Linked DNA regions of Homo sapiens: region 2 is linked to region 1. A link means that fine-mapping ties the variant in region 1 to the expression of a gene that starts in the linked region. Tissue or cell type: cerebellum. Region 1 holds a variant in brackets; the other region holds the start of a gene. All regions are shown on one strand. Distances are from middle to middle.

The links. PIP is the estimated chance that this variant, and not a neighbour inherited with it, causes the effect.
Region 2: TMC2 starts here. The variant in region 1 is fine-mapped to the expression of TMC2 in cerebellum (GTEx, PIP 0.98).

The regions. Positions count from the first base shown.
Region 1 is chr20:2,612,133-2,614,814 of GRCh38, reverse strand. TMC2 (transmembrane channel like 2) reads right to left here. Exons shown (of 20, transcript NM_080751.3): 13 at 2,475-2,624; 14 at 1,493-1,621. LOC105372505 (a long non-coding RNA gene) reads left to right here. Exons shown (of 5, transcript XR_007067502.1): 5 at 683-769. Among named protein-coding and RNA genes, the nearest start is that of NOP56, 39 kb to the left of the region's middle. The variant T/C (reference allele first, on the strand shown) is at 1,207.
Region 2 is chr20:2,535,395-2,538,076 of GRCh38, reverse strand. It overlaps TMC2 (transmembrane channel like 2), which reads right to left and starts at 1,504. Exons shown (of 20, transcript NM_080751.3): 1 at 1,422-1,504; 2 at 761-808. The coding sequence starts at 1,455. All of the region lies in intron 2 of LOC105372504 (a long non-coding RNA gene), which reads left to right.

The DNA.
Region 1 (2,682 bases):
ATATATATTTTAATATAATCCTTTCCCCCCAGTGTGTTTGAAAGTCTCCCTTTATCATAAACTAAAGGCCCATGTAGATAGTATCTATTTCTGGACTTTCTATTCTGTTCCATTGACATGTTGGTCTATTTTCTAGTACCAGTTTTAGTTATTATAGCTTTATCATATGTTTTAGTATTATGGTAAGTCTAGTTCCTTTTATTCATCTTTTTATTTTTTCTTTATATACTTTTTGAGACAGGGCCTCACTATGTCGCCTAGGCAGGAATGCAGTGGTGTGATCAAGGGATCAAGGGATCCTCCTGCCTTAGCCTCCTGAGTAGCTGGGATTACAGGCATGCACCAGCACACCCAGCTAATTTTTTATTTTTTGTAGAGATGGGGTCTTGCTAAATTGCCCAGGCTGATCTTGAACTCCTGGACTCAAGCAATTCTCCTAATTTGGCCTCCCAAAGTGCTAGGATTACAGGTGTGAGCCACCATACCTGGCCTTATTCTTCTTTTTAAATATTTTTTCTGGATATTCTCACATGCTTATTTTTCAAATGAACTTTAGTATTATTTGGAAATCGTGGTGATCTTACAAACAAATTTAAGAACAATGACCTCTTAGTAATATTGTGTCTTTCTATCAAAGATGTCATCCTCTTTGAGCACAAAGTTCTTTCATCTTCGTTCTCAGACAAGATTATGAAGCTTTCCTGGCTGCCGAGGAGCTCAGCAGACTTGTTTAAAACTGAGACTGGTGACTGAACGAAAAAAAATGTGACAGAAACCTGTACTGGGGCCCTTACCTGGGCCAGGCCAGGATGAGGGATACATAGGTCAACATCCTACGGAGCCTTTCACCAGGAGCTCAGGTAAGAGGTAGGTACCTTACATGCACACCAGTGACTGCAGGCTGGGCCAGTGAGGTGTTGTGGAAGAGACATGTACAGCACAGGTGCCTGAGCCAGAGATTCTGCCAGAGCATAGAAGGACACTACAGAGAGGAAATGACACACATTTACCAGGTAGGTGGGGAAGAGGGCTATAAGGGAATACAAGTCAAAGGAGGTTTCTCAAAGCATCATCCAGAAGACAGGACCAATGGTTATTGTGTTCTTGGTGTGTTCCAGGACTTCCTGAAATATTCGCCTCCACTGTCAGATTTCAGCCCCCATAATGAGAGTTGAGGCTGCTCAGATGCAATTCCCTATCAACCAT[T/C]GGCTCAGTACTGGAGTGTGTGGTCCACTTTCCCCTAGGCCAAATGCCTCCATTTCCTAGAATAGAAGGTCACATTGTTCATTACACTGGGAAAAAGCAGTTTCCCTTATGAAGGCAAATAGGACCCTTAAAGGAAATACAAATTAAACACTTTACTACTCTACAGAGCAGAGACCGTCATTAAGCTTCCAAAGAAATGAAATGCCCAAGAATGCATCTGGCTATAAGTATCAAAGAAGATAGTTGAAATTCCTTTGTGCGGAATGTCCATGAAGTGGTGACCTACAAATCCAGCCTCCAAGTCCCAGCACCAGCAGTAGTTCATGAACCGCACAAAACAAGCCCGTAGGAAGTCCCCCAGCAGGATGGTGATGTACGTTACCAGCATGTCAGACACCGTCAGCCTCATGAATTCCTGCAGAGGAACACAGGAAGAGGGGGTGGTTGGAGACCTTGCCCACTTCTCCCACCCTCCCTGAGAGTTTGTTGAGAGTCTAATAAACTCTCCCCCACCCACCTGACTTTGTCTCTGTGACCCTCTGATCCTTTGTGTGTGAAGAGAGGCGACTCCTGGCTCTGGAAAATGCTTAATTTAGGTCCCAGCTCCACATTACCAATTGTATGGCTTTGGAATAATCTCTGAACCTCTTGAAGTTGATATTGATATCAATCTCAAAAGGCTATTGTGAAACTTAGTAATTATGTATGCAAATGCAAATTGCCTGTTAAATTGACTATGCCCAATGCATCGTAGTCATCATCACTAGGACCCGAAGGCCTTGCTTCCCCACTTATTCTGAAGTGCCAGCTGCCCCCACTAAGACCAAATGTGACCGTCAGTCACTGGAGACAATGCCTAGCTTTTTTCATCTTCTGCTAGTCAGATTTTTCTTTTTCTTTTTCTTTTTTTTGATATATAGAGAAAATAAAACAGGTTTTGCACAGAGGCACATAGAAGAAGGACCAAAAACTGAAGGACAAAGCTTTCTCTGCATTTGTAGAATAGACATAATTTACTATGTTTTTGGAAAAATTGAAAATATCTACCAGACACCAATCACAACCTTTGAGACACCAAAGAGATTTGGAGTTCCCAGGGGTCACAGGATCTGCTTTGGTCATTTTATTTCCTCCTAGATGATTATGAAATGTTTGCTGGATGAACAGCTGGTAAGTTTTCAGGGTTATTCCTCAAATGGAAACATCAAGGAGGGAATAACAAAGAACTGAGAACAGGGGTCACCTTTTTAGAGAGTGTAACTACTCACAATGCCCACAGCTGTCTCCCAGCAAGAACCCCGGGGCACATCTGCAGGGTGCAGGGGTGGTCGGGGGACACTCTCGTTCCAACCAGAAGAGTTGTAATAGTTAAACAGAGTCCAGTGAGTGATGTTCTTTATTGTCTCTTCATTAGCAAGCTAGAACAGAAGATGGAGGTGTGGGGTAGGAAGGAGCTAGGGATGGTCCAACTGTTTC
Region 2 (2,682 bases), 77 kb after region 1:
GAGGGAGTGGAAAGGGCCCTCCCTCCCAGAATGGGGGAGGAAGGAGATCTCTTCCAACCCCCCAGAACCCCATCACTCCCCAAGATTCTGGTTTCTTGCCTACTAGTGTGGGGCGCAGGACCCAGCCCTGCCTGGGACGTGAAGGGGGAGAAAACAGCATCGCATCCATAATATTTTGTGACATGAAGATGCCCAGCCTGTGAGTGTGGCTTCTGCCCCTCTCCCCTGAACCCTCAGTCTCAACCAAGGGTTTTCTCTCCCGCCTATGGCTTCCTTGGGCTCTCCCACTTCTCCTGGAGCAAGTTGGCTCCCTCACCGGCTCACGGGAGAGCTGTGGTCACATTCCCAGTGGGAAGGTGATGGAGCACCCATTATGCCTACTACTTTTTGGAGGTTAAGAGTGTTCCTCCTAGAGTCCGGGGGCCTGGATGTGAATCTGGCCACACCACCCGCCAGAAGCCTGCACCGAGCTTCCCTGCCCTCTGTCTGGTGAATGTTCACTGCTTCCCAAGGCTCAGCTCAGAGTGTCACTAACCCTGGGAGTCTCCCCTGACACCGAGGGCTGAGCAGCACCTTCTCTGAGTGGTACTCTGCCCCCTCCCATGTTAAACACCTTGCCTCCCAGGAAGGCTCCATGCAGGGTGTTGAATGAGAGGGAAGGAGATGAAGGAGAATGTTGGATGGGTGGCTGGACTGTTGGGCTAAGCAGAGGGCACCCAGGCACTGCAGGCTCCCCAGAGACCCCACCACCCCATCTCACCTGTGTGTGGAGAGCCGCTCTTCACCCGCCCTTTCACTCCGCCTCGTGCTGTAAGAGACAGGATTGCTGACAAATGGCTGGCCTCTGGTGAGTCCCCCTCCCTGCAGACCCCCGGTCACTGTGGGACCCCTCAGCTGATTTGTGGCTGCCTCAAACTGGGACCCAGCTCCAATGATTTTACTCAGCAAATTATAGAGTCCCCTGCCTGTCACATTTGTCTGATACTGTCAGTCATGAGGTCAGAACATCCCCCACCCCCTGCCCTGCACAGAGACAGAGACAGATAGAAATCTGCTGAGGGGCTTGCTCGGAACAGGCAACCCTAACCGAGACAATAGGTGGCTGAGACGCCCCAGCAGGCTCTGAGGAGCATGCATCGGCCGTGACAGTCTCCAGTGCTGGCCTGAACACAGGTGCTGTGCACAGGTTGTCTTGAATCCTTCCAGTAGCCCTGCAAGGAGGTGATGACTACCCCCATCTCATGCGTGAGGATCAGAGAGGTTGAATAACCAGCCGAGGTCGCTCAGCGCACAGGGGACAGGCCCTGGACTCAAACCCAGCTCCTCCCTATGCCTCTGAACACCATATGTGCTTCCCCCATCCCCTGCTGCTGCCCAGGAACCCTGTGGGCGGGCCCCGCAGGATCAGGACGTGGACTCACCTTCCTCTTTCAGGCCCTTTACCTGGTGGCTCATGGTCAGCAGCACTGCTGGGGTCCTGCACAGGCTCACGCAGCGTGCTCCTGTATGCACGCCTTCAGCCTGGGCTGCTTTCCTGCCCTCATGGTGGCTGGCCTCCCTTCCTAGACCTGACAGCAGGCGGGGCTTCTTGGTTTGAGATTGAATGTGGAGGTGGGTGAAGTTTGGGGGAGAGAGACGGGTGAAGGAAGGCGACGAGTTCCCGGCCCATCAATCCGGCCACACACTCCTCTTCTCAGGTTTCCCTGCAAAGAGGCAGCATGGCCTCATGTTTCAGGCATCAGTTATACATGAGGGGCCCTGGAGGGGCCAGGAGCTGCAGGCTTATCTCCTGGCAATGATGCCGCTGGCACTCTAGCCAGAGGAGGTGTGAGGAGCATCCCAGGCCCTCTCCCACTATCTTGAGTCCCTGATTGGGACAAAGCACCAGGGAAATTCTAGAATGTTTGTTTAAGTTATTACTTGGGCTTCTGTTTAAAATGCAGATTCTGGCATGTGGTGGTTCACACCTGTAATCTCAGCACTTAGGAAGGCAGAGGCAGGAGGATTGCTTGAGCCCAAGAGCTCAAGACCAGCCTGTGCAACGTAGTGAGACCCCATCTCCACAAAAAGAAAAATAATAATAATAAATTTTTAAAAATAAAATGCATACTCCCAGGAGTGGCACTGGGCGTTGGAATCAGTCAGTCTGTGCCAGGCCCTGGGAGCCTGCACTGTGGATCCTGCTGCAGGCGTCCTGAGCCCACACAGATGAATGTTCCCGCTCAGCCCCCGCCCCCTCCCTCAGCAGCTTTTCCTCCCTGGCTTCAGGGAGGCACAGATTTGGCTGCTTTGAAAACCATCACTAAAGTGTCAGAGGGACCCTCTGGAAGGCAGTCATAAGGTCTCAGAGTGTGGAGTTCTTAATCTGGAGTCCCTGGAACCCCCAGAGCTGTGGATGGAATTCTGTGGGTTTGTGAATAGTGATGGAGAAAATACTACACTTTCACTTTTCCTAGCCTTAACTGCGATTTAGCATTTCCCTCAATCATGAATGTAAGCAAAGATGTGATTTTTGTCTCAGCAAAAGTCACAGTTATTTTTTTTCCCAATTAAACCACTGGGGATGTCTCAAAATATCTTACATGTTATCACAACTTCAAAATTATGATAGTTAGAGACCTGCCATGAAATCTTGTTATTTAATTAGGAAGCATATATTGTCATTATATGAAAGATATTTAA